Regions from separate parts of the Homo sapiens genome. Here regions 2, 3, 4, 5, 6 and 7 are each reported to be linked to region 1. The links are microRNA targets in miRTarBase. Many come from high-throughput screens and were not tested one by one. Region 1 holds a microRNA gene; each other region holds the end of a gene's coding sequence. Distances are between the middles of the regions.

The links. The annotated mature microRNA hsa-miR-513c-3p reads UAAAUUUCACCUUUCUGAGAAGA and lies in region 1 at 2,947-2,969, opposite strand. An mRNA with a match to its seed (bases 2 to 7 or 8) in the 3' UTR can be bound and repressed. Matches are read on the target gene's strand: a 7mer-m8 pairs with bases 2 to 8, a 7mer-A1 pairs with bases 2 to 7 and ends in A, and an 8mer does both.
Region 2: the mRNA of PLA2G4D is a reported target of hsa-miR-513c-3p. Seed matches in the 3' UTR shown: 7mer-A1 at 3,094-3,100.
Region 3: miRTarBase lists CHIC1 as a target of hsa-miR-513c-3p. Seed matches in the 3' UTR shown: 7mer-A1 at 1,820-1,826, 7mer-A1 at 2,153-2,159, 7mer-m8 at 3,639-3,645, 7mer-A1 at 3,904-3,910 and 7mer-m8 at 4,007-4,013.
Region 4: the mRNA of TMEM107 is a reported target of hsa-miR-513c-3p. Seed matches in the 3' UTR shown: 7mer-A1 at 1,111-1,117.
Region 5: the mRNA of NACA2 is a reported target of hsa-miR-513c-3p. Seed matches in the 3' UTR shown: 7mer-m8 at 3,442-3,448.
Region 6: the mRNA of PRKACB is a reported target of hsa-miR-513c-3p. Seed matches in the 3' UTR shown: 8mer at 1,279-1,286, 7mer-m8 at 1,367-1,373, 7mer-m8 at 2,139-2,145, 7mer-A1 at 2,337-2,343 and 7mer-A1 at 2,659-2,665.
Region 7: the mRNA of C16orf87 is a reported target of hsa-miR-513c-3p. Seed matches in the 3' UTR shown: 7mer-A1 at 2,552-2,558, 7mer-A1 at 3,047-3,053, 7mer-A1 at 3,072-3,078 and 7mer-A1 at 3,323-3,329.

What each region holds. Positions count from the first base shown.
Region 1 is chrX:147,186,771-147,190,838 of GRCh38, forward strand. It overlaps MIR513C (microRNA 513c), which reads right to left and starts at 3,017; the gene lies at 2,934-3,017. The region is part of intron 1 of LOC105373347 (periphilin-1); the gene reads left to right.
Region 2 is chr15:42,065,117-42,069,184 of GRCh38, forward strand. It overlaps PLA2G4D (phospholipase A2 group IVD), which reads right to left. Exons shown (of 20, transcript NM_178034.4): 20 at 1,893-3,825. The coding sequence ends at 3,599. Among named protein-coding and RNA genes, the nearest start is that of PLA2G4D, 27 kb to the right of the region's middle.
Region 3 is chrX:73,680,744-73,684,811 of GRCh38, forward strand. It overlaps CHIC1 (cysteine rich hydrophobic domain 1), which reads left to right. Exons shown (of 6, transcript NM_001039840.4): 6 at 212-4,068. The coding sequence ends at 262. Among named protein-coding and RNA genes, the nearest start is that of CHIC1, 120 kb to the left of the region's middle.
Region 4 is chr17:8,170,778-8,174,845 of GRCh38, reverse strand. TMEM107 (transmembrane protein 107) reads left to right here. Exons shown (of 5, transcript NM_183065.4): 4 at 230-326; 5 at 574-2,389. The coding sequence ends at 643. It overlaps SNORD118 (small nucleolar RNA, C/D box 118), which reads left to right and starts at 1,258; the gene lies at 1,258-1,394. LOC105371520 (a long non-coding RNA gene) reads right to left here and starts at 736. Exons shown (of 4, transcript NR_188261.1): 1 at 648-736; 2 at 1-70. RefSeq lists enhancers at 1,062-1,241, 1,722-1,811.
Region 5 is chr17:61,587,031-61,591,098 of GRCh38, forward strand. It overlaps NACA2 (nascent polypeptide associated complex subunit alpha 2), which reads right to left. Exons shown (of 1, transcript NM_199290.4): 1 at 3,391-4,068. The coding sequence ends at 3,503. Among named protein-coding and RNA genes, the nearest start is that of NACA2, 2.2 kb to the right of the region's middle.
Region 6 is chr1:84,234,556-84,238,623 of GRCh38, forward strand. PRKACB (protein kinase cAMP-activated catalytic subunit beta) reads left to right here. Exons shown (of 10, transcript NM_182948.4): 10 at 625-3,943. The coding sequence ends at 750. Among named protein-coding and RNA genes, the nearest start is that of SAMD13, 65 kb to the right of the region's middle.
Region 7 is chr16:46,799,243-46,803,310 of GRCh38, reverse strand. It overlaps C16orf87 (chromosome 16 open reading frame 87), which reads left to right. Exons shown (of 4, transcript NM_001001436.4): 4 at 241-4,068. The coding sequence ends at 359. Among named protein-coding and RNA genes, the nearest start is that of C16orf87, 30 kb to the left of the region's middle.

The sequences.
Region 1 (4,068 bases):
CTACAACACAGATCAAAACAGCTTCAACACATGCTAACAGAACTGACATTTTAAAACACAGATAATTTTTACAAAGTAACTAGTAAAATACTTAGTATACACAGGAGTGCTAAATTATATGTAGTTATTTATGCTGGATATATGTTATATGTAATTCAATAATGTGATAAATATTTTTATTCTGTAATTTGCCTTTTTATTATCTCAGTGGTCTTATTTGAAGACGTCTTAATTTTTTCAAAGTCTATTTTATCAATTTATTTTTAATAAATTTTATTTTTATATTTTGATATCATATGTAATAATTTAATGGTCAAAAATATTTTCTCTCATTTTTTTCATGCAATTTGATAGTTTGACGTTTTGGCTTAAGATTGTGTTAATTTCTGTATGTGGTTTGAAATACGATCAAGGTTCATATTTTTTATATATCTCACATTTCCCAGCATCTTACTGTTTAAATACTATCATTTCTTCATTAGATTGACTTTACAGCTTAGTCAAAATGAATTGGTGACATATATGGATATTTCTGGTCCTTCTATTTGTCCATCCTTTCTTCAGTACCACAGTACATTGGGTAATCTAATTAGACAGTAAATCTGGAAATTACAAGTGTAAATTTTCCAGCTTTGTGATTCTCTTTCAGATTGTTTTGGATATTCTAGTTTATTCGCCTTTTATATCAGTTTTAGAATCATCTTGCTAATGTCTACAAATATTTTTCTGGGACATTGGTTGGAATTGTATTACTTCTAGAGATTAATGGAAGTCTAAAAGTCTATAGATTTGAATCCTTCAATCCATAAATATGATAGTCCTCGCCACTTAATTAGTATTTTTTTTTAGTATATTTACAGTTTTAGCATACAGATGTTTTGGGGTTTCTATTGATACTGTAATAAATTGCCACAGATTTAGTTGTTTACAACAACACAAATTTATTATATTAGAGTCTAAAGGTCAAAAATCTAAATTAGGTTTCTCTTGGCTAAAATGAAGGCATTGGCAGGGCTTTGTTCCTTCTGTTGGCTCTAGAGGAGAATCTACTTGATTGTCTTTAGAAGATTCTAGTTACTTTCTCCATTCTTTGGCTCATGGCCTTTACCTCTACCTCTAGTCAATACTATAGTATTTTGCAATGTTTCTCATTCTAACCACCTTTCTCCAACGTATAAGGGCCCTTGTGATAATGTTGGGCTCACCTAGATAATCTAGGATAATCCCAATCTCAAAATATTTAATAACATCTACAAATTTTCTTCTACAATAAAATATGATGCTTACGAGTTCAGGGGTTACATTGTGAACATTGTTTGGGCGGGGGCTGTTACTCTGCCTACCACAGAGATCTTGTAATTTTTTCTTAGAGTTTCAAATAAATATTTTATGTTCATATTTTATTTTTCAATTAGCTTGATTTAATCATTGCATAATGTACACATATATCAAAACGTCATGTTGTACACCTTAAATATGATTTTTATGTCAGTTAAACCTTAATAAATTGGAAGAAAAAAGGCTGAGTAATACAAAACAGTATTTCACTGAAAAAAAACACAAATACCAGTAAATATACTATTCTTTTGAGAAATCATAACAGAGGTATGATAACAACTAAATTCTCTTTTATTTCATTTTAAGATATCACTTAAAGTTATATAAGTAAACATGCATCACTATAATACAGTTTTAGAAATTATATACTAAAAACAGTTATCACTTTGGAAAATTCTATGTACATACAGTATTGCAAAGTGACAAAATTTTTTTACTGTTCAGAATGTTGCCCCCACCCCAAAAAGATTGTATGTATTCTATTATTACAATGTTTTTCATTATGGAAAAGATACTTCAACTGTTTTTTTTACTTTCAGACATTAATGGTCTTATACATATTCATACATTCTGAATCTAAAAAAACATAAACCAAAATCCTGCCTGTAACCATATAGTAATTGTTTTTTATAGTTTTTCCCTTTCGGTGTTTATGCTGTAGCCTCTGTTTCAGTTGGAATCAAAATTGTATTAATCACTTACTATTTATAACATTTTTTACACATTTCCACAATATAAATAGCTTATTTATAACCTACTTCCCAAACATGTATACTAGATTAATGCTGCAGATGGCCTTACATAGTCTGGTGCTTGTCTTTCTCTTGCATGTTCTCTCTCTCTCTCTCTCCTCTCTCTCTCTCTCTCTCTCTCTCTGTGTGTGTGTGTGTGTGTGTGTGTGTGTGTGTGTGTGTGTGTTTATTTCCCTCTATTTCTCTCCATTAGGTTAAGAGTTAAGCGTCACCAAAAGAAAATGGGGAGAGAAGCCTAGGAGATATCTCTTGAGTATCAATTCTGTCATACCCTTCCATTCTTCAAATATACTCTTAAAAAATGGGGAAAAAAGATAATTAAAAAGGGTGAAATATTCTTGGGTGGACTATGCTTAACCCTTCATAAATTGGTGACTGAAGGCTTTGAAAGGTATTTTAACAGTCAATGAGAAAATGTTTTAGTCTTTGACAGAAAATGGACACTGTGGATCAGCAATGAAGGGACCTGAGAGGCAGGAGAGCCTTTTGGGAGCACTAAAGGACAATCCTTGCAAATGATGACTAGTTGATCAGTGAAAAGAGTTTAGAGAATTGAGGAATCTGGAGTAAAATGTCTCAGCTGACGAAGAATGGCTGTGGCCTCTATACAACGTATTTCTTATTTGAGCCAAGCCTCATTTGGCAAAAGTAGATAAATTCTTAAGGAACCAAAGTGCATGCGTTTTCTCAGGAGTCCACAGTTCTTATGTGTAGTCGTCTAGAAGGCACAAAAAGTTCCTTGAAGTAGCCCAGCACTGAGGAGTGGGTGCACAGGATGCAAAACAGGCATCACCATGCTCGCAGCTACAGCCCCATCCCTAGGGACACCACATATGCAGTGCATGCTGTACATTACTCTTCTCAGAAAGGTGAAATTTATATTTTAGTTCACATAAACGACACCTCCTTGAGAAAGGCACTGTACGCTGAATGGCTGAATGTGGCATCCCAGACCAAATGTTCCCTATTCATGCCGTTTTTATTCAAGTCCCTATAGGTGTATGCCTTCGCATGGCCACCAAGATTTATGCCAAGTAACAATGCAACTTCTAGCCCCTAGCACTCCCCTTTTCACCCTGCCCTGAGTGAGATATTAACATGCAGATTTTTGTTTTGTTTTGAGACGGAATCTGGCCCAGACTGGCATGCATTGGCGTGATCTTGGCTCACTGCAACCTCCGCCTCCCGGGTTCAGGTGATTCTGCCTCAGCCTCCTGAGTAGCTGGGATTAAAGCTGTGCACCACCATGAACAGCTAATTAACACGCCGATTTTTAGGCTGAGCAATGATAGAGCTTTTCACTTCTCCTCTTTTTCAGAGGTGAGTTATCCTTGTCTGAATTATCCCATTGGTTTTCCTGTAATTTTGCTTGTCTCATTAAAAATCCTCAAAGTCTTTGCTATTGTGAATAATGCCGCAATAAACATACGTGTGCATGTGTCTTTATAGCAGCATGATTTATAGTCATTTGGGTTATATACCCAGTAATGGGATGGCTGGGTCAAATGGTATTTCTAGTTCTAGATCCCTGAGGAATCGCCACACTGACTTCCACAATGGTTGAAACCAACCCAAATGTCCAACAATGATAGACTGGATTAAGAAAATGTGGCACATATACACCATGGAATACTATGCAGCCATAAAAAATGATGAGTTCATGTCCTTTGTAGGGACATGGATGAAATTGGAAATCATTCTCAGTAAACTATCGCAAGAACAAAAAACCAAACACTGCATATTCTCACTCATAGGTGGGAATTGAACAATGAGATCACATGGACACAGGAAGGGGAATATCACACTCTGGGGACCGTGGTGGGGTGGGGGGAGGGGGGAGGGATAGCATTGGGAGATATACCTAATGCTAGATGACGAGTTAGTGGGTGCAGCGCACCAGCATGGCACATGTATACATATGTAACTAACCTGCACAATGTGCACATGTACCCTAAAACTTAAAGTGTAATAAAAAAAA
Region 2 (4,068 bases), not on the chromosome of region 1:
CAGAGGGCAGAGCGCCAGCCTTGTCCTGGGACTGGTGACAGACAGCCTGCTGTCTTCCTGTCTCTGAGCTGGCCCCAGGAAGGGCCCACAGGCTGCAGGAAGAGCACTGTGTGATTTACATAGATGCCTTTGTGTGGGGGCCTGACAGCTGCTGGAGTCACGGTCCTCACCCGGGTCAGGGTGGGGCTGAGAGGGCCTCCGGGTGTTTGGGTAGTCAGGGGCTGGGGTGACAGCAGCTAGTGGGGGGCGGGTATATGAGACAGATAAACATCCACACTCACATGCCAGGTGTGGCTTTGAGCCTCAGCCCAGCCCACTCTCCTTGGCTGTCTGGCTGGCTTTATTGAAAGTTCGCCAAATGGAAAGGGTCTTTTTTTTTTTCTACCATGCCGGCTCACTCTCCAGAGCATCCGTGCCGGCAGTTGGCCAAACCCTGAGGTTGGGAGCACAGTCCTCCAGACCACCACATCTTCTGGGACGCCTGACCTCTGCAGCAGAGGTCACCAAACTGTCCAGTCCGAGGGAACAGTCCCCACAAGACTGCCCCAACTTCAGCCACCAGCCGCAAGTTCAGAGTCCCCAGGGCCACCTTCACTTCAGACCAGCTGGCTGCAAATTTGGGGGTGCTTACAACCACCCTCAGCTTCAGTAATTTTCTAGGGTGACTCACAGAACTCAGGAAAGCACTAACCTTATGATTACAGTTTTATGATCATGAAAAGATACAAATTAAAACCAGCCAAAGGAAGAGAGGCTTAGGGCAGAATCTGGGAGGGGTCCAGTTGCAAGCTTCCAGGGAGGTGTCCTCTCTCTTTGGGGTTCTGGACAGCATTGCCTCCTCTGGGCCGCAATGTGTGAGGATACGCACAGGGTGTTGTCCACCAGGAAAGTCTACCTGAGACTTTGGTGCCCAGAGACTTTACTGAGGCTTGATCAGATGCTGCCTGTGTGACCGACCTTTAGTCTCCAAAGCCCCCCAGCAAACAAAGACACTCCTGTCAGACAGGACATTCCAGGACCCAGAGGTCACCTCCCACTAGCCACGGGCAGAGACTGGACCTCTCTTTGGTGAGGTTAATTCTAAACTACGAATAGGGCACGTTACAAAGTCAGTGCCCAAAGACACAGAGAGGTGTGGCTGTCAGAAGCTCCAGTCCTGGATTTGCCACCTTTGAGGTTAGCAAGTTACTTAATCCCTGTGGACGCCTACCAGCCAGAGGCCAGCAGGAACAGCCCAGTAGCCAAACAAATTTGAGTTAACTGGTACCCATTGCACTAAGAAGACTGTATACTAGGAGGCAGTGCAGTCTCAGTAAGTGTGTGTGTGTGTGTGTGTGTGTGTGTGTGTGGTGGGGGGGTGCTTATTGAAGGATTTGGGCGTTTGTAGGGTGACATTACGAAATGTTCAAGGAAGCAAAGTGTTGCTGTGGATTGGGTGCTGTCAGGGAGTGGGGCGAGTCTATAATTGAGGATCTTCACAATTTTTATCCAGGAGGTGGAAGAACGGGAGGGACGAAAAGCCTGGTAGAGAAACCGCAGTCTCTCACGTGAAACAGGAGAGGGCACTGTTTGGCCATTTTTATGGTTTCACAGTGCCCTCATTTTTTGTCCATGCTCAGGCATATTTATGGAGTGGCCTTGATTCTGTCCTGCTGCGTCACGGGGGCGCGGTGACCCTGCCTGACACAGGTGCTCTGTGAAGTTTGTGTGCATCAGGCGGACACCAGGGACCTGCAGACGAGTCACAGGATGCTTTGTTCTGTTCCTTTCCCAACCCTGAGTTTCATCACTGATAACAAGGAGACGGTAATTCTACCTAACACATTAGGCAAATGTGAGAATTAAGGGGAATAATGTAAAATGCCCAGCATAAAATAAAACACAACAGCTAGTCAATTCCCATATCACTGTTAAAAAAATAAGAGTCCATGATAAAGGGAAAAAGTGAAGAATCAAAATAAAGCCAAATGCAGAAGAGGCACAGGGAAGGAAGCTGAGAGAGGACATCAGATGAGGGCAGTCCCTGAGCCAAGGTCTGTCCCGAAGCTCTCACTACAACCCCCACCTGGGGCCAGGTGTGTGTGTGTGTGTATGTGTACACGCACCCTTGCATGAGGGAGGTAAGAAATGTGCTAGCAGCTGGCCGTGGTGGCTCACACCAGTAATCCCAGCACTTTGGGAGGCTGAGGCAGGAGGATTGCTTGAGTTCAGGAGTTCAAGACCAGCCTGGGCAACATGGTGAGACCTCATCTCTACAAAAAACCATTTTTTTAATTTAGCCAAGTATGGTGTTACATGCCTGTAGTCCCAGCTACTTGGGAGGCTGAAGTGGAAGGATCACTTGAGCCCAGGAAGTTGAGGATGCAGTGAGCCAGATTGCACCATTGAACTTGGCCTGGGTGACAGAGTGTGATGAGATTCTGTCTCAAAAAAAAAAAAAAAGAAAGAAAAAGAAAAAGAAATGTGCCAGCAATAAACAAAAAGGTTTATATACCATAATCAAATGGAAACTGCCCCAGGAATGCAAAGTTGGTTTAATATCCAAAAACCAATTAATGCAATAGAGTACATTAATAAAATACACGACAAAACCACATGATCATGCCCATAGACACAGAAAAATCACTTGACAAAACCTAACACCGTTTCATCATAAAACACTCAATAAACTAGAAATAAAAGAGAACTTTCTCAACCTGATAAGGATGTCCAAGAAAAACCCACAGCTAAAATCACACTAAATGGTGAGAGACTTATGCTTTCTTGTCAGAGTCAGGAACAAGACAAGATGTCTGCTCTTGAAACGTGTGTTCATCATTGTACTGCTCAGGGCAATTGGGAAAAATAAATAAAAGGCATTCAGATCAGACAGGAAGAAGTAAAACCATCTCTATTTGGAGATGGCATGATCTGTCTACAGAAAATTCTAAGAAATCCGCAAAAGTATTAGAGCCGGTAAACAACTTCAGCAAGATTGCGGAATACAAGATCAACATTTAAAAATCCATTGTATTTCTATAAAATAGCAATGAATAATCTAAATGAAATTAAGAAAGTAACTCCACTTATCAAAAAGAATAAAATATTTAGGAATAAATTTAAACAAGTACAAGACTTGGATACGGAAAGCAGGAGGACAAAGAGGAGAAGGACAAGGAGAGGAGGAGGTGGAGGAGCAGGAAGAAGATGAGGAGGCAATGTGTTCAGGATGTCTTGTGATTCCCGAGGCCTGAAGCCACCTGTCAGGTCAGGCATCCCCTGTCCTTCCTGTCCCTACTCCTGATCTGCTGCCTCCGGCTTGCACTTCAAATCTATCCTGCTCAGGCATGGAAGTAATTGTGGTGTGAAAGTCTGTCTGGTTGGACCAGCTGTTCTACACACTGGCCTGGCGAAGTTATTTTCAACTCATCTCAAGCCAGCCATGAACGTAAGAGAGAAGTCTGTGTGTGCAGTTCCCTCTGGGCAGTGAGACCAGCTACAGAGGCCACCCAGGCCTGGGAGAGCCCAGAACTCCAACCAGGAAGGCCTGTGGCTGAGCCCAGCTACAGATCAGGTTATGCCCGCAGGCCCTGGAGGGTCCTGCAGCCTCTGAGCAACCTCAGGTCTGTGCCCTTGGAGGCCTCGCCTCTAGAGTCCGGTGCTTCAGCGCGGTCCTCAGGGCCTGCAGGATGGCACCCTGGCTGGTCTGCACGTTGTAGTCACTGAGCCGCAGCAGGCGCTCGAAGTCTTCCTCCTTGTAGGTCATGTTGGACAGGGTGTAGGGGCAGGTGGCCCCGGTGAGATCCACTTGGCCACCCTGGAGCTCTGCGGGGCTGCGCTGGACACCTGCCCAGGGGTAGGAGGGGTGTCAGGAGCAGGACGCCGGGGCTTCTACAGCCTGGCAGCGGCGCACAGGGAGGGCTGCCCCCGCTGGAGGGGCCCCTGCTTTCCTCCCAGCTCTCTGTGTCCTTTGCCCAGGAATGTAAATGTGGGTGGCAGGGTGCTCTTTGGATGGGTACTATTTGGTGGTAGAAAATACAATTTCATATTTCATTGCCTTGTGGCGTGACACCCCTTAGGCTATTCAGG
Region 3 (4,068 bases), 74 Mb from region 1:
TTTGTTTGCCAGCTTAATTTTTAAATTGCCAATCTAATAACAACTTGTGGTTTAAGTTCTTTACATATTTTTTTCATGTATTTCACTTACTTTATATGGTTCAGGATTGAAATATTGTCCTATGAAAAATGATTATAGACTTTCTGGGTTATTTATAAGTTATATTAAATGAAAAATATTTTGTAAATATATTCTTGTTTTTATTTTGCAGGTAATACTAATAGAATTCTTACCAAAATATCCCATATTCCGACCTGACTGAGGAGTTTTATCCAGTCACTTCTGTGTTACCTGTCATTTCCTACCCTTAGTGCCTTGTAGATTTGGAATGAAGATGGTCTCCTTTGCTGTGTTCAACTTATTCTTTATAATGGTAGAATATTCTTCTCGCTCTTTTGTGTTGGTTTATGAAGAAAATTTGCACATCTTTTTTGTCTTTCAATGAGGCTTGTGTTTTGCACTCTCAATTTTAAATACACACACATGCGTGTGTGCATATACATATATAGATAGTTGCCATTAAAGATAAATCATCAGTGTTGGTGTTTAAAAAACAAAAACTTGTTCTGAGCATGCTGCCTTATAATTTTCATACTCATTGTTTCTAAACTCGCATCATTTTTCTAGGCTACTTGATGCTCTGTAATCCCTTACTGGACAAACTTAAATAAGCTTTTGGTAGCTTTTAGAAATGGTTTTACTCTGCTTTTAAAGGACATGCTTTTAAAGGACATGCAATTAATGGCACTGGTTTTGTCCTGCACTTTGCTTTATCACTTATGTTAGTGGATAAAATATTTAAACTCCTAAAGACTTGTAAATATTGCCTCTTTGCATAATGTAAAATGTGGTATGCCATGGTTTACATAATGTAACATTACTCTTATTGTATTGCCAACAATTTTACATAGATTTTAATATGAATGAAGTTTGCAAGCATCCCTTTGAATGTAGAAACTGCTAACATGCTGTTTTATGGCAAGGCCATAATGAGTATGTTAAGAATTTCAGGTGTAGGGCAAGGTTGCCCTTTGTAACAAGTGGACTAAAATTGAAATTATTATCTCAGATATTCTGTATTGCACCTGAAACCATGACCTTTATTTTTCCATTTCGTTTAATAATTTCCATTTTGTTGTCTACTCCTTCCCACAAAAAAACTATTTGACATCTGACACATTTCACAGTCTCACTATCCTGCATTTATTAGCCTTTTCTTCCTTTGAAAATACACACAATTATGACTTTTAAGGAGTATTTTGAGATTTCAGACATCTTCAGAAGGTATCTAGACCCTCTTGAAAGCCACTAACACCTTTCTGCAGTTCTGATATTCTAGTTTGAGAAAGAGAGAGAACTATTTGAGAAGCTGTAGCTAAAGAGTATATAGCAGCTGATTCATAATTGAAAAAAAATTCTCAATTCTGTTTTTGATGATCCTTTATAAAACATTAATGAGGAAAGACAAGTGTTTAGACAAAAGTATTTTAGTTTATAAATTCAGCACATATGTAACATTTATTTGGTCCATATTTCTCTATTTTTCTTCACAATTAAAATGATTGCTAGCACCACACAACTAGAATTTGAAAATTCAGTATAATGAAAGCTTTATATCACATTAATTCAACTGCAAATGTATGCCTGTTTGTAGGCATTATTTGTAATTCATAGTGCTAAAAATAAAAGTGTCTAGGGCTCAGTAATATTTTGTCATCTTACTCTTACTGCTTTTAGTAAACCTTTTAGGCAAGATTCATCTCAGTGAAGTGAACAATCATTTCTTCATAGAAGGTCAAGCCTTTTTAAGCCACTCTTAAAATTTATGCCTAATTTGAAATCCACAGTCCTTGACCAGTTTAAAAAAGAGAGGAAAAAGAAGACACTATTTTATATGTGATTATAATTGTTTGCACAAACACTTTTCCACCTTCCTCTGTGCCCCATTACCTCTGTGCCACTCAGTCACCCCAAATCTCTAACCTTTAGTAATGTGTATGCCTGCAAATATTATGTGTTTGCCTGCTGCAAAATTGAAGGTGTATTTTTATAGACAAGGTAGAAGCCTCTGAAAATGTATACCAAATGTCTTGTTTTGTAGCTAAGGTCGGGAAAAATTGTATCTGAGGTTTATGTTCCAGCTAATGTTATCAAATTTATGCTTCAAACTGTGATATTTTAATACCAAAATCGATTTTCAGCATAATACAAAATATCTCATTTTCACTGATAGAAAATTGCTTTTAAGTGTTGATCCTTAGAAATCTTATTTTTTTCTATAACCTTAGAATTTGATCATATGATGGTCATAGGAACTTTTTCTGCCATGTATAAATCACACTTGGTTTTGCTCAAAGAACAGCATGAAGTGGTGAATTGTTTCCATGAAACAATTATTGAGAATGGGAATACAGTATATCTGGAAATGACACAGTATAATACAAGTTACAGTAGCATTTGTCACAAAAACCACTTGTCAGCATGTGTAAACTTAATTTTAAAGCCTATTCTAATCACTCGAGTTTATTATTTTATTGTTCGCTATGCTGGTTGACTCATCTTAGTTTCTTCAACTACCCAAAAAAATACCAATTTTTTTCCTCTCTTGTATGACTACTTTTTCAAACTGTTTTCCTTTGCAGGGGGCTGATTAGCAATTGAGTATTTTGTAATGTTTGGGCGGGGTTGCTTTGTTTTCAGTGAAATTGGTTGCAGTGAATGCTAAAATGACACAGCACACTGGTGATTAATTCCTCCCCCATGGAGCCTTTTTTCTGTTATGCTTAGGATAGAACATACTTGTAATTTTCCATTAGGTTAGTAACATACTTTTGTGAAAGTTGTTTTTAGACTGAAGAAAGTAATTTTGAATTTCTTTGTTACATAATATTCCTTTATGAAACTTGTGATAGTTTCCAGAGCAAAACATGTATTTGCCAAAGTATATAAATCTCACAAGGCTTTAAGATTACAAGCTAAAATTGTTTTTTAAAATTAATGTTCCAATGTTTCTCATTTGGCCCAAGATTCTGGCTTCATAAATTTGTCCAACTGGCTATTTTTAAGCTTGTCCTAAAAGCCAATAACATGTTTATTCCTAATAACTAATATGGGCAAGTGTTATTTACAGATTTATTAACTCCATCCCAGATATGTCTCCACTCTTTGTTCCCTCCTAATGCTAATTTAGGAAAGAGACCACTGTAGTAAAACTTTAGAAGAAGATGGAGAAGTGCCTTGTCTTTTTAGAACAAAGATAACACATTACGTGTAAGGAAGCATAATAAATGAATTGGTAGATGATTAGATTAGAAATCATCCTTTTCAACTAGGTCTAAGAATACTTTACTAGTGTATTATCTTTTATTTATTATGTAAAGCTTCTTTCCTTCCTTTTCCCCAATCATGATATATTAGTGACAAAATATTACAGAACCGGACTATCAGTCACTTAAAAAAACAGTATAATTCTAATGCTAGTAAACATGTAATTTAATTTAGTTCTGGAAGGACAGTTGTCTTTGATTAAAGCCCCACCAAAACCCATTTAAGTATTTAATGTACATACTATTCATATTATTATGGCCTGTAAACACTAATATCTGAGCAATCAAACTGTTTTATCTACCATTTTTGATGAAATTTGAATAAAGTTTAAAAACGTGTAAGCCTTTGAACAAATGTATGAAAGCTTTAAAAGATCATTAGCACTTTTATTTTGTTTACAAATAAGCTGCCATTTAAAAAAATAAAACCTCACTACTTGAACATAAAGCTCCCAAACAATATTGTATTAAAATGTACTATATTGACCTAGGAGGATATAGAAATTATATTCACCTGATTAACTGGAGCAGTTTCACATAGTAGAAATACTTTTTGCTAATTTGATTATAAGTGCTCAAATTTATTGAAATTAGATTCTCATGCCTATAAAAGTATACTTTAAAAATATTTTGCAACAACTGTCAAATTATTTGGGTTCCTTTAAATAGCAAACAATTGGGAAATTTTCCATAAAAATGAATAGGTTTTATTAATACCTGTTCATGTAGTATGTGGACTAAA
Region 4 (4,068 bases), not on the chromosome of region 1:
CAGATAAGGGGTAGGGTAGCCTGAGGTCCGATCTGTGCAGTCACTTCTGGTCTCTCCTCACATGACTGTCCTAAAATTCAGAAGTCAGAGCTGCTGACTCTAGCCCTTGAAACATGGTGAGGGAGCAAGGGATGAACCTGAATGCAGATGCCAGCCCCACCACTGGCCTTTTCTGACCCATCACTGTCTGTCGATCCAAAGACTTTCCTTAATCTCGTGCCTTCCCAAGCCATTGGGGCTCACTGTAGTGCATCCGTGGCCCTGTCCTTCTTCATATTCGAGCGTTGGGAGTGCACTACGTATTGGTACATTTTTGTCTTCTGCAGGTGTGGTAGCATCCAATATTTGGGGATGAGGGAGGAAGGTTGGCCCTAAACCTGAAGGTTTTTCCCCTACCCAGCCCTTTCCTCCATGTGTGAGATACCAGATCCACTCAACATCCTGTAGGCTTTTAAAGTTTCATCCCCTACCCCCCATGCCACCTGCCCTACACTTTCAGAGGTGGGGTCTCTGGTTTGGAGATTTGGGTATTTATACTGAAAGGGTTTCTGAATCTACCACTTGCCTTGGTAGTGCCCTTCCAGCTGTCACTGAAATGGCTTTATTCGTCACCGTCTTTGGGCTGAAAAAGAAACCCTTCTGATTACCTTCATGACGGGAACCTAAGGACGAAGCCTACAGGGGCAAGGGCCGCTTCGTATTCCTGGAAGAAGGAAGGCATAGGCTTCGGTTTTCCCCTCGGAAACTGCTTCTGCTGGAGGATATGTGTTGGAATAATTACGTCTTGAGTCTGGGATTATCCGCATTGTATTTAGTGCTTTGTAATAAAATATGTTTTGTAGTAACATTAAGACTTATATACAGTTTTAGGGGACAATTGAGATGGCTGAACTACTGAATAAAAAAAAAACAACGCTGTTTTCTAGTCCTGCAGACCGTAAGATACTTGGTATCGCTTCTATTTTGGTTACTACGGTAGGTGCCTGGCGGAAGGGAGTGGGCGGAGATATGTAAATAGAAAGTGCGTACAGTTAGAACGTCCGGCACGTAACTGATCGGAGCATTCTGGGAAGAAGTAATTTATTCCTTTTCGGCAGCCGAATGAAAAAAAAATTTAAAAAAATGTGCGAGCTAATATGGCAAAACAACTGGAAGGACGCTAAATAATAGGATTGCTCATACCAGCGCGTTATGAACTCACCCTAGCTTGTAACGGAATCTTTTTCACTGAGTGCAGAATGTCGGCTGTTTGTCTGTATCGTCAGGTGGGATAATCCTTACCTGTTCCTCCTCCGGAGGGCAGATTAGAACATGATGATTGGAGATGCATGAAACGTGATTAACGTCTCTGCGTAATCAGGACTTGCAACACCCTGATTGCTCCTGTCTGATTCTTTCTGACGATCACTTACATTTGTGTTATGCTGATTAGCAGATATCCACAAACATAGCTATGAAGTTCTGACTGGGATAACCTTGCTGTTTGTCTATTTTGCAGTCTTGCTATTGCTGTTTGTCTATTTTGCAGTCTTGCTAAATTTGTTTGTTCTTGAAAATTGTGATTTGGTTTTTGTTGCTTTCTGGAATTTAGGCAGTGAAATAATACAAATGGGCTCTTTGTTTTTTGTCGTTTGATAACTTTAATCCTCACTTCTCAGGAAACATTGCACATCAGTAAATATCTGCAGTCTTGTGCACATGGTGGTTGCCCTCAGGATGGTATTCAATAGGAACTGTATTTCTTTTTCCTTGAGGTAGGGTCTTGGTCTGTCGCCAAGGCAGGAGTGCACGGCGCAGATGTATATACATGGATACATTTGTTTTTGGAGAGTTGGTTGTTAAAAATCTACCAGTACACCCCCAAGAAACTCATCATCACCAATGACTTCTTCCCAAATCCAGAGTCACTTTTCAGACTTGAGATTGACCTCTCTTCAGCATATGGTATGTTGACCACCCCCCTCTTTTGGTTTTTTTTTTTTTTTTTTTTGAGACAGTCTCACTCTGTTGCCCAGGCTAGAGTGCAGTGTGCAGTGGTGGGATCATGGCTCACTGCAGCCTCAAACTCCCAGGCTCAGATGATCCTCCTGCATCAGCCTCCCAAGTAGCTGGGACTACAGGTGAGCACCACCACACCTGGTTGTTTTAAAATTTTTCTATAGAGACAGGGTCTCACTGTGTTGCCCAAGCTGGTCCCAAACTCCTGGGCTCAAGCCGTCCTCCCCACTAGGCCTCTAGGCCTCCTAAAGTGCTAGGATACAGGCATGAGCCACCGCGTTTCTCCCACTCCCCTCTTTTGCACTTTTTTCTCCCTTAGTTTTGAAACAGTGGTTCACCTGGTTTGCCTACTATTATACTGTTCTGGTTGTTCCTTCTTACATTAATTCAATAAATACTTATTGAGTACCTGCAGTGTGTCAGTTACTGGGGACATAATACTGGGTTGTCTCTTCTGCTTGCCCCGTAAGTGCTGGTGATCACTGCTCTTCGGGTGACTTCATCCATCTCTTGTTTTCTTTTCTTTTCTTTTTTTTTTTTTTTTTTGAGACGGAGTCTCGCTCTGTTGCCCAGGCTGGAGTGCAGTGGCGCGATCTCGGCTCACTGCAAGCTCCGCCTCCCGGGTTCACGGCATTCTCCTGCCTCAGCCTCCCGAGTAGCTGGGACTACAGGCGCCTGCTACCACGCCCGGCTAATTTTTTGTATTTTTAGTAGAGACGGGGTTTCACCGTGTTAGCCAGGATGGTCTCGATCTCCTGACCTCGTGATCCACCCGCCTCGGCCTCCCAAAGTGCTGGGATTACAGGCGTGAGCCACCGCGCCCGGCCCATCTCTTGTTTTCAAACATCAACTAGATGCTGCTGGTTTCCAGATCTCAGCTCACGTATGTGAGCCCTAGCCCAGGGCCAGGACTACAGGAACAAGCTCTGTAGCCAGACTGCCTGCCGGGGTCCCAGTGTGGTTTTTTCTCTTTTTGGCCGTGTGATGGGCAGGAGGTCACTTTCCCTCTTTCTGCCTCAGTTCCCTCATCCACACTCACACTTTTTTTTTTTTTTTTTGAGATGGAGTCTTGCTCTGTCGCCCAGGCTAGGGTGCAGTGGCGCGATCTGCAACCTCCGCCTCCCTGGTTCAAGCGATTCTCCTGCCTCAGCCTCCCGAGTAGCTGGGATTACAGGCGCCGGCCACTGCTGTCTGTCAGGGGAGAAGGGTAGCAGAGTGTCAGGCCTGTGGTAACTGCTCAGTGTCTTTTCCCTGAGTTGACTGGGTCTTGGGATTCTCCCATCATAGTAGACATCTGTTTTTGCCAGTTCAGTATCCATCCTTTCTTTCTGGTAATAGCACCACCATTTTCTCTTCTTTTTCTTTCTTTCTTTCTTTCTTTTTTTTTTTTTTTGAGAGGGAGTCTCGCTCTGTCGCCCAGGCTGGAGTGCGATGGCGCAATCTCGGCTCACTGCAACCTCGGCCTCTCGGGTTCAAGCGATTCTCCTGCCTCAGCCTCTTGAGTAGCTGGGATCACAGGCGCGCGCCACCACGCCCGGCTAATTTTTGTATTTTTAGTAGAGACGAGGTTTCACCATGTTGTTCAGGCTGGTCTCGATCTCCTGACCTCGTGATCTGCCAGCCTCGGCCTCCCAAAGTGCTGGGATTACAGGCGTGAGGCACTGCGCCCGGCAGCACCACCATTTTCTTTTGGGAGACCCTCCCTTATTCTTAGTCTGCGTGGTTAGGAAGAGGCTGACAGCCACTCCCTCCCTACCATTCCTCTCTAGGCTCATTCTGTTTTCCTGGGCGCGGTGATTGGTTCAAGCATAAACCTTGACAACAGGACTATTGCTGGAACTTTTGGGAAAAGAGAAGCCTGGACTCTTCCTGGAAATAAAAGCATGCTATAAAATAAAATAATTAGCCTGGGCGCGGTGGCTCACGCCTTTAATCTCAGCACTTTGGGAGGCCGAGGTGGGCAGATCACCTGAGGTCAGGAGTTCAAGAACAGCCTAGCCAGCATGGTGAAACCCCGTCTCTACTAAAAATACAAAAATTAGTCGGCCGTGGTGGCGTCTGCCTATAATC
Region 5 (4,068 bases), not on the chromosome of region 1:
AGGATCTTCGAGAATAGAGGATGGCTTATAAAATTCTATATTATTTTTCGGGCCCAGAAAAGATCTCTATGAGCAGAGGTGACTCAAGAGATGCTTATAATACTAATTAAATAAATCATGATGAATGGCAAGGGATAGACAAAGAATTAAAATTAATGATGAGCTAGAAACAGACTCTACTGACCTTAAAATAAACTCTATGAAGTCCAACGCACAAGGAGATGAGGTTAAAGCATGCTAACTTGTAAACAGGTAGAAAAATGGATTCACAGATTTTCATGGCACAAGACTTTACTCATTTATTTAGCTGGATGCTTCCCTATCACTGGGCACTAAAGACTCTTGTGTCATAGTCTTTTTGCTACTATTAAGCCAGAAAACAGAGATAATGTGCCAGCCTACCTACACAAGACGAATCATATTTCTCTCCAAGAACCTCAACAAGGGCACCTAGTTAAAGGTGGTAACTGAATTTGGTTCCATCTACATAATGGCATAATCAAGACAGAGAAATGATAAAAATATTATGACAGCTGATGCATTCCCTAGAGACTGACAGAGTCCAGTAGCAAGGTCCAGATCCACACTGGAGTCTGTACTTGAACAAGATACAGATATCAGATTTAGTAACTAGAAATATTCCATCGACCCTCATCCCCACCCCACCCTTCCCCATAACAGACTCAATTATCAAGTGGCAAGAAAAATTCTCCATAGGGAAGCTTGGTGCCTTCCTTCAAGAACGTGCCTGCCATTCTACAAGAAGTAAAAATCATGGAAAATTAGTTTCCACGGGGAAGATCATCTGAGAAGGATGGGCAGTAACAACTTAGGGGGCAATGAAGTTAGAAGGTTGGCATAGCTCTTCAAGGAATGTCAAGACCATGGCCAGAAAATGCTCAACATTATAGTAAAAAGTTGAGGGAAATGTACCCAACAGAAAACTTTGATGCTCATTTTGAAGAAGGTAAAGCTGCCAGAAGACTGAGACACTGCTGAAAAAATGGGCACAAAAAGAATTACAGTGGTAGAGTTGGGATCTAAAAATGTACCATTTTTGCATATGAGAGTAGCCTTGTTCCACTTCATTACTTAATTTGAGTGAAGTGGAAAGAACATGGGCTTTGGAATCATGTAGACCATGAGTTCTCAGTCTAGCTCTTTTAATTGAGAGATCTATGATAATGAGTATCATCAACCTTTCTTAGCTTTGTGTTCTAAAATGAAAAGTAACACCTGCATATTAAGTGCTTAGCTTAGCATAATTTCTAGCACATTGTGGGGGATCTAAGTGAGATCTATTATTGCTGCTTTTAATAGATTTATTTCTGCAGTTCTGTTCTTGCCCACGATTTCCCTTGTGACCATTAATACATATTTCGAGGCTTCTGACAAGAGCGTGAAGGCACCATCTGTGCCATGAACCTTGGACTCACTCATTAACTTCAGTGAACAGAGCCAACCCAATCTCACAGTGGTGGGTACCCTGGAGAACTATCTTAGTTGGCAAAGGATTATCTACATTTCATAACATTTTGTTGGAGGTAGTTGAAGTAGGTGGGCTAAAGTAACTTTGTTTTGTGGTGACCTGTGGTCAAATTATGATGATCAATAATTTGCATATTGTTGTAAGTATTCACAACAATGAAGATGATAAGTAACAATTACTTCTAATTTATGGTCTCTACTATATTATGCTTTTGCTGAAGCTTGAAGAAAGCTCATATGTACATAGACGGTGTGTCTAAAAGAAACACGATTTTTAAAAAATGTCTGACTGTATACATCAAATGAGCAATACCTCCTACAAAGGAGCTCCCTTGGGAAGCTATACAAACATTGTTAACAATCCTGCATTAGATCAAAACACTTTTGGAACTTCTTTATTGGAATTGCCTTATGACCTAGTTTATGAGCCATATAGAAAACTCAGTCTCATTAATTTATAGTCACACATAATTAATTTTTCACCTCTGGTGGAGTTACCCAGCTTGATCACCCATTTTGGCTCTGAATGATTTTGCTGCTTCCAAAATAAAATCCAATCTCAAAGTGTGAGTATTTGCCACTATCTAGAGTGTTTAGGAGAACATATCACATGTTATGAAGGCAATTCCAAAAAGAACTCCAGAATTTCAGATTCTGGAATAACATATCTCATGGCAGTGAGTTTGCTGAGGGCAACTCTCCTCTGCACAGCAAGTTGTATTTAATAGTATATTTGATTTTAAAACTATTCATCCAACAAACAATTATTGAGGGCTAGCTATTGTCAATTTGTTCTTTCATTCATTTGCTTAACAATTATTTACTGAGTCCCTATTACTCTATAGGAACTGGGCTAGGAACCCAGCAGTGAATAGGAAAGACATGGCCACTATTCTTGCAGAGACTTCATCCAATTAAGAAGACAAATACTAAACAGCAAAGAGAGGCGTAATGAGAACATATTTCAGAGAGACCTAAGCTAGTCTAGGGATTAGGGTAAACTTTCCTGAGGAAATGATTTTGAAGCCGAGATTTGAAAGATGACTAGGAATGTTCCAGGTAGAGGGAACAGCATGTGTAAACGCTTGAGGGCAAGGGAGTGTGATGTTGCAGGAACTGAAAGACGTTCAGTATGACCAGAGCATTTAGGGGAATAGCAGAAAACTGTCAGAGGCCAGACCATACAAGGCCTAATAAGCCACATGAAGAGTTCAGACTATTTCAGTTGCTCATACACTAAAGAAGGGATATGCAACTCTGGTTGCAGAATGGATCGGACAGAAGAGAGACTGGAGGTAGAGAGACGGTTTAGTAGGTTATTAGGAAAATCTGGGAGAGGATGATGGCAGTAGAGACACAGAGAGGTGCATGAATCTGAGAAATGCTCAGGAGGCAGTAGCAATAGGACTTGAAGATTTACTGGGTGCCAGAGATTTTAAAGGATAGGGAAGAGCTAAGGATGAGTATCGAGTAGCTGGTTTGGGAATGAAGGGTATGATGGTGACTTTCACTGAGCTGGGGACACTGGAGAAGGAGCTCTAGTCATCCGGTAGAGGAGAGATGATGAGTATACTTCTGGCTATCCTGTGATTGAGGTGCCGGGAGAGTATCCAAGGAAAGACGGTAAGTAGGTGGCTGGATATCCAAATCTGTGTCTTAGGACAAAGATGGGACTGAAACTATTTGAGGATCATCAGCAAGAGAAATGAATCTGATCACCTATGTTGAGTGTGCAGAGTGAAAAGAACACAAGGCCTTGGAAAGACCCCTGAGATGCACTAATATTTAAGAACTGGGTAGAAGAAAAGATGACCACAAAGGAAACTGAAGAATAAGCCAGGGAAGAAGGTAGATCCGGAGAGTACGGCACTTGGAGACCAAAAAAAGAGAGCATTTCTTTTCTTTTCTTTTTCCAGCAAGAAGTCATAACTTTATTTATGATAGAAACAGTACAAATTTCAAACCAAGCTGCAGTTACTCCTTTGAGACACCAAAAAAAGTTGCTTTCAGATGGTTACACTGTTAATTCCATAATCGCATTTACAATATCATTACTGTTGTTCTTCAGAGCTCGGACTGCCTTTGCTCTCGACACATTTGCTTGTGACATGACCAATTTCACGTCTTTAACTTCTACACCTGTTTCATCGACCTCTTCCTCTTCACTCTCCTCTTGTACAGTTGGAGTCTGTGTGTTTTCTTGAATGTTTCCGACAGCTTCACCTTGAACTCTGAATTTCTCCGCAGCTGCTAGTTGTGCTTGCTGAGATAAATCTTGGATCTTGGCTTCCCCAAAAACTATGTAGGCATCCGAAGCAGGGCTCTTGTAGACGTCCAGTTTTGTGATGACAAAGAGGATATTCTTAGATTTCCAGATAGTGACTCTAGTAACTCCTGTAACCTGTAGAAGACCCAGTTTGGACATAGCCTTCCGTGCCCTCTTTTCACTCCGACTCTGTTTTGCTTTACCGACTGGTTCTTCATCAATTTCAGCTGCTGCCACCAGCCAGGCTTTTTGTGTGGTGGTCTGGGTGGAATCCTGTTCTTCAATCCCTGGTACTGATTCACCACTATCAGATG
Region 6 (4,068 bases), not on the chromosome of region 1:
AATCAGCGAGACTCCGTGGGCGTAGGTCCCTCCAAGCCAGGTGCAGGATATAATCTCCTGGTGCGCCGTTTTTTAAGCCCGTGGGAAAAGCGCAGTATTCGGGTGGGAGTGACCTGATTTTCCAGGTGCCGTCTGTCACCCCTTTCTTTGACTAGGAAAGGGAACTCCCTGACCCCTTGCGCTTCCTGAGTGAGGCAATGCCTTGCCCTGCTTCGGCTCGCACACGGTGCGTGCACCCACTGACCTGCGCCCACTGTCTGGCACTCCCTAGTGAGATGAACCTGGTACCTCAGATGGAAATGCAGAAATCACCCGTCTTCTGTGTCCCTCACGCTGGGAGCTGTAGACCGTACCTGTTCCTATTCGGCCATCTTGGCTTCTCCTCTTATCCCAGAAATTTCTTAAGTATTTTGTTGACCTGCATACTTCCTTGAATCAAAATGTTGAGGTTAATAGCTAACCTACTGCTTGCTGCTTCTTCTAGCACTATTATATTTTAGGAACCTAATGGCATCTAAGGATTTCACCGTGTAATAACAGTGGGAATTTATTTTTCTTGGTGTTTGGAAACTCTCAGGAATTTTTTTTTCCTTTTTCTTATTTTTCTCTCCCTCTCAATTATAGGTTGAAGCTCCATTCATACCAAAGTTTAGAGGCTCTGGAGATACCAGCAACTTTGATGACTATGAAGAAGAAGATATCCGTGTCTCTATAACAGAAAAATGTGCAAAAGAATTTGGTGAATTTTAAAGAGGAACAAGATGACATCTGAGCTCACACTCAGTGTTTGCACTCTGTTGAGAGATAAGGTAGAGCTGAGACCGTCCTTGTTGAAGCAGTTACCTAGTTCCTTCATTCCAACGACTGAGTGAGGTCTTTATTGCCATCATCCCGTGTGCGCACTCTGCATCCACCTATGTAACAAGGCACCGCTAAGCAAGCATTGTCTGTGCCATAACACAGTACTAGACCACTTTCTTACTTCTCTTTGGGTTGTCTTTCTCCTCTCCTATATCCATTTCTTCCTTTTCCAATTTCATTGGTTTTCTCTAAACAGTGCTCCATTTTATTTTGTTGGTGTTTCAGATGGGCAGTGTTATGGCTACGTGATATTTGAAGGGAAGGATAAGTGTTGCTTTCAGTAGTTATTGCCAATATTGTTGTTGGTCAATGGCTTGAAGATAAACTTTCTAATAATTATTATTTCTTTGAGTAGCTCAGACTTGGTTTTGCCAAAACTCTTGGTAATTTTTGAAGATAGACTGTCTTATCACCAAGGAAATTTATACAAATTAAGACTAACTTTCTTGGAATTCACTATTCTGGCAATAAATTTTGGTAGACTAATACAGTACAGCTAGACCCAGAAATTTGGAAGGCTGTAGATCAGAGGTTCTAGTTCCCTTTCCCTCCTTTTATATCCTCCTCTCCTTGAGTAATGAAGTGACCAGCCTGTGTAGTGTGACAAACGTGTCTCATTCAGCAGGAAAAACTAATGATATGGATCATCACCCAGATTCTCTCACTTGGTACCAGCATTTCTGTAGGTATTAGAGAAGAGTTCTAAGTTTTCTAAACCTTAACTGTTCCTTAAGGATTTTAGCCAGTATTTTAATAGAACATGATTAATGAAAGTGACAAATTTTAAATTTTCTCTAATAGTCCTCATCATAAACTTTTTAAAGGAAAATAAGCAAACTAAAAAGAACATTGGTTTAGATAAATACTTATACTTTGCAAAGTCAAAAATGGCTTGATTTTTGGAAACAATATAGAGGTATTCATATTTAAATGAGGGTTTACATTTGTTTTGTTTTGTAACCGTTAAAAAGAAGTTGTTTCCAGCTAATTATTGTGGTGTACTATATTTGTGAGCCTAGGGTAGGGGCACTGCTGCAACTTCTGCTTTCATCCCATGCCTCATCAATGAGGAAAGGGAACAAAGTGTATAAAACTGCCACAATTGTATTTTAATTTTGAGGTATGATATTTTCAGATATTTCATAATTTCTAACCTCTGTTCTCTCAGTAAACAGAATGTCTGATCGATCATGCAGATACAATGTTGGTATTTGAGAGGTTAGTTTTTTTCCTACACTTTTTTTTGCCAACTGACTTAACAACATTGCTGTCAGGTGGAAATTTCAAGCACTTTTGCACATTTAGTTCAGTGTTTGTTGAGAATCCATGGCTTAACCCACTTGTTTTGCTATTTTTTTCTTTGCTTTTAATTTTCCCCATCTGATTTTATCTCTGCGTTTCAGTGACCTACCTTAAAACAACACACGAGAAGAGTTAAACTGGGTTCATTTTAATGATCAATTTACCTGCATATAAAATTTATTTTTAATCAAGCTGATCTTAATGTATATAATCATTCTATTTGCTTTATTATCGGTGCAGGTAGGTCATTAACACCACTTCTTTTCATCTGTACCACACCCTGGTGAAACCTTTGAAGACATAAAAAAAACCTGTCTGAGATGTTCTTTCTACCAATCTATATGTCTTTCGGTTATCAAGTGTTTCTGCATGGTAATGTCATGTAAATGCTGATATTGATTTCACTGGTCCATCTATATTTAAAACGTGCAAGAAAAAAATAAAATACTCTGCTCTAGCAAGTTTTGTGTAACAAAGGCATATCGTCATGTTAATAAATTTAAAACATCATTCGTATAAAATATTTTAATTTTCTTGTATTTCATTTAGACCCAAGAACATGCTGACCAATGTGTTCTATATGTAAACTACAAATTCTATGGTAGCTTTGTTGTATATTATTGTAAAATTATTTTAATAAGTCATGGGGATGACAATTTGATTATTACAATTTAGTTTTCAGTAATCAAAAAGATTTCTATGAATTCTAAAAAATATTTTTTTCTATGAAATTACTAGTGCCCAGCTGTAGAATCTACCTTAGGTAGATGATCCCTAGACATACGTTGGTTTTGAGGGCTATTCAGCCATTCCATTTTACTCTCTATTTAAAGGCCGTGAGCAAGCTTGTCATGAGCAAATATGTCAAGGGAGTCAATTTCTGACCAATCAAGTACACTAAATTAGAATATTTTTAAAGTATGTAACATTCCCAGTTTCAGCCACAATTTAGCCAAGAATAAGATAAAAACTTGAATAAGAAGTAAGTAGCATAAATCAGTATTTAACCTAAAATTACATATTTGAAACAGAAGATATTATGTTATGCTCAGTAAATAATTAAGAGATGGCATTGTGTAAGAAGGAGCCCTAGACTGAAAGTCAAGACATCTGAATTTCAGGCTGGAAAACTATCAGTATGATCTCAGCCTCAGTTCTCTTGTCTGTAAAATGGAAGAACTGGATTAGGCAGTTTGTAAGATTCCTCCTAACTTTCACAGTCGATGACAAGATTGTCTTTTTATCTGATATTTTGAAGGGTATATTGCTTTGAAGTAAGTCTCAATAAGGCAATATATTTTAGGGCATCTTTCTTCTTATCTCTGACAGTGTTCTTAAAATTATTTGAATATCATAAGAGCCTTGGTGTCTGTCCTAATTCCTTTCTCACTCACCGATGCTGAATACCCAGTTGAATCAAACTGTCAACCTACCAAAAACGATATTGTGGCTTATGGGTATTGCTGTCTCATTCTTGGTATATTCTTGTGTTAACTGCCCATTGGCCTGAAAATACTCATTGTAAGCCTGAAAAAAAAAATCTTTCCCACTGTTTTTTCTGCTTGTTGTAAGAATCAAATGAAATAATGTATGTGAAAGCACCTTGTAAACTGTAACCTATCAATGTAAAATGTTAAGGTGTGTTGTTATTTCATTAATTACTTCTTTGTTTAGAATGGAATTTCCTATGCACTACTGTAGCTAGGAAATGCTGAAAACAACTGTGTTTTTTAATTAATCAATAACTGCAAAATTAAAGTACCTTCAATGGATAAGACAATTGATTGAGTCGTGAATTCTACTTGGTGCCCTCATCTCCTGATTTATTTTCCGCTGATACAAGAGATGCTTATAGATTCCTAGTTTTTATGTGTTTGGGTTGATTTCTGGGTGGTGGGAGCAGAG
Region 7 (4,068 bases), not on the chromosome of region 1:
TTATGTAGCTGTTAGAGTGCCTGTGTATAGAAATAAATATTGTCTTCATTTAATCTTCATTTCAGTAACTCCTTTGTATAATTTAAAAAACTTTTTAGTTCAGTAGCATAGTAACATTTAATGTATATTGTAGTATTATATATAATACTGTCATTTAAAGAAATACTTGAAAGCTTTAAAAAATTTAAATTTACTGCATCTACTGCCTTTATATTAAACTTTCCCTTTTTCTTTTAACAGAGAAACAGGAAAAGGAAATTGACATCTATGCTAACCTGTCTGATGAAAAGGCTTTCGTGTTTTCAGTCGCCTTGGCAGAAATAAATAGAAAAATTATCAATCAAAGACTTATTCTCTGATACTTGTTTGCAAAATCTGCTGAAACTTCTGTCAGGATAACATCAGCAAATTCTCAAACAGTTATGGACTCTCAGGAGCATTCTGACTGCATCAATAAGGGCCATCGATTGTTTCTTTCTCGCCTGTCGTTTAGCCTGTGCCACACTTCGGGAGCAAAGCTGTGTAGGCTTGGACTGTTCTGGGATTTCCTTGTTTACCAAGGAGTATTGTCAGTGTTTTGTGTTTGGGATATAAGTAAGTGTATTTGCCAACAACAAAAAAAAACCAACAAAAATGCTGGATGGATGTTAAAGGATAAAAAGTGATGGGGTATGGGGTAGGTATGAAAACTAGGGTAATAAGATGCTTGATTGTTTTCAGGTTTGCCACCAGAGATGCAATATTTTAAATACTGTCAGAAAGAGTGATTTTTAAAAATATATATTTCAGATTTTCAGTGCTAACAGATTGCATATATACAGTTCATTTACTTTTATTAAATTGGCAATCGATATTTTATTGAATGGGGAATTAAGAATATAAACTGTAAATTTTGTCTTAAATTGATTTTTTTTCTTGGCCTTTATTTTTATTACTTAAGGTATGAGTTATATTTTAGGAGATACTTTCTAGACAGTTTGAAGTTTGGGTGCTATATGAAGAAAAACATTTAATGATATACTCAGATATAAACACCTTGTTTTCTTGAATGTAATTTATTTATTAGCTAAAAAAAAAAAACAAACTGCTCTCAAGATGGTGCCTGTTAACCTAAACATGAAATATATTTATTACATGCAAAATATTTCTTAGCCACTTTTAAGCAGTAATGTTTTATCTGAATGGATATTTGTTTCTATATCCTGATAATTATTTAAATTGTTACTTTCAATCTGGAAGAAAAAATAAACCTTAATATTGAAACTAAGTAGATTAAATAGTGTGATAAAAGTTTTTTGTTCTGGTGAAGTTTGTGAAATATATTTAAATTCTTAATTTTTCTAGTGTTAAGTCATAATCGTTTATAGTTGATTTATATTAAATGCTTTTGCATTTTGGCATATCAATTTAATGATTAACATATTCAAACTTGGTAATCACTCCCCTTATTTTCAGTCGCTCTTCCCCCAATCTGTTTAGAAATCCTTTTAAAGCCTTCTTACAGAAGATAGTCATCAGTTAGATTTAGCCCCCTTTTAAGAGAATCTCCCTTTCAATTTTAGCCGTAACATTATCAATTTCAGACTTCATCCTGCATCTCCCATCACCTCCTCAAAGAAAAAAGGTCAACATTTTTTCCTACTTTATTTAAATGGTAACCAGCAGAGGGAGCTTAAGAGGTACTCTAGATAGGATAAAGAATTTTCCTAAGGATTCCTTTTCCTTTAATCCCTGTATCTATCTGCAGGTACTACTGCAACTATTTTGTATGCATTTTATTTATTTATTTAGGAGACAGAGTCTTGCTCGGTCGCCCAGGCTGGAGTGCAGTGGCACTGTCTCAGCTCACTGCAACCTCTGCCTCCTGGGTTCAAGTGATTCTTATGCCTCAGCCTCCTGAGTAGCTGTGACTAGAGGCGTGCGCCACCACGCCTGGCTGTTTTTTTTTTTGTATTTTTTAGTACAGATGGGGTCTCAGCATGTTGGCCAGGCTGGTCTCAAATTCCTGGCCTTAGGTGATCTGCCCGCCTTGGCCTCCCAAAGTGCTGGGATTACAGGCATGAGCCACTGCACTCAGCCTTGTGTGCGTTTTAGAGTCTTAACTAGTAGTTTCCCCAATAATGTAATGTGATTTTATCTTTGAAACATACTGTAAGGAAACTTTTGATTTTAAGTAAAAAAGCTTAAAAATGATTAATATCTAAAAATGCTTGTATACATATATATGTCCTCAGAAAAAGCAAGAACAGCTTGTGGAATAAGCACGTCTTTAAGGAATTATCGATGTCAGAGTCTATCCATTTAAAGCTGAAGACCATTACAGGAAAGTCATGTTAAAATATTCATTGGATATGGTAAAGGAGGTACTGGTGGCTGGGCTGGAGCTTGCCGTATAGAAAAGTAATTACTTCAGATCTCATAATGTTAAATTATTGGCTTATTTAAAAATTTCCGTGGCAGAGAGGCAAATTAGGTTTCCTCTGTGACATAACCTATTTAACCAATTTTTCAAAAAATTGTACTCTATGAGCTTTCTTGTTATAAAGCTAAAAAATTTAATTTGTCTAGGCATGTTGTAATGGTCCCAGAAAATATTACTTTGTCACTGGTGTCAGAGAAACCTCTGTCATCAGCAGATGTCCTAAGAGTATAATTATAGTTCTTTACTTAATCCAAAATTTGTTCTGCTCTGATATCTATAAATGATATGATTATTCAAAATACCTTGAAATGATTCCACAATTAGATTAGGTCTGTTGAAGATAACTTATTCTTAAATATGAGTAAGATTAAATAAAAGTAGTTTGAGAGTTGTTACTCCCTGCCTCAACTCCATGGTATTCCAAAATGTTTTTGTGGGCACTTTAATACTTGTAGTTTGATTTTGTTTGTTAGTTTTAGAAATGAACATTTCTTAGATTTTCATGGGTATTTTTTGGCTGTATTTAAATGTAAATGATATAAAAGTAAGGGAAATTGTGCAAATTATTTCTTGTGTAGTAATCAGTGGAAGTGATCAAACAGCTTGAAGCAGTTTATGATGAGAAAATTTAAAATTGCAAATGACCTGAAAATTTAGCCAGTCTATTCTTATTTCTTTAAATTTCAGAAATACTTAAGAAAAAAAAAAAAAAGGTCAGTATGACCTCTGAGTTGCTTCCTAAAAGTAATCAGATAGTGTTCTCCCTCAGATAAGATTTCAAATTGAAAAGTATTTGACTTCTTTAACTCTAGTAATTGCACTTGATTCTCTAATTCTGATCATTAAAATGACTTGGCAATATTTAATTTTGGCTTGCCTTTCAATCTGCATGTTTGTCTTAAATTTAGAAAAATTAAGCTCTTTACTTACTTTTATATAAAGTATTAATTGGCCAGGCATGGTGGCTTACACCTGTAATCCCAACACTTTGGGAGGCCAAGGCAGGAGAGTTGTTTGAAGCCAGGAGTTTGAGACCAGCCTGGGCAACATGATGAGACCGCGTCTCTACAAAAAGTAAAATTAGCTGGGTGTGGTGCTTCCAGCTACTAGGCAGCTGAGGCTAAAGGATCACTTGAGCCCAGGAGTTCGAGGCTGCAGTGAGTGATGATCTTGCCACTGCACTCCAGCCTGGGAGGCAGAGCAAGAAACACCCTGTGTGAAAAAAGTATTGAATTTGTTTGATTCCACTTTCAAAATATGCTCTAGATACAGGTAGTCATTCTGCCAAATTGTGTTCTTCTCTAAAACATTTTGTCCGTCATTCTTTGAAACTCATTCTTAATTATTTCCACTTTACCTTCTAGTTTGGTTTGATGCCTTATATTCTTGCTAGTTAAAAGCATTTTTTCCCTAGTATTTTCTGTCTTTCTAGCCTTTAAGGCATATTGTTGTTAACAAATCTCTTATTTAAGTTAATTAAAGTTTTTTCTGTGCAGCTGGGTTTTTTCTTTTACTACATGACAAGCTTCATTTTTACATTTGGAAGTACATGTATATATGTTTATATATTTTTATTCTCAGGATCTATTTTCTAGGGAACTATTTTTTTAAATTATTCTTTTGTGCTGCCTTAACCCATTTATTAT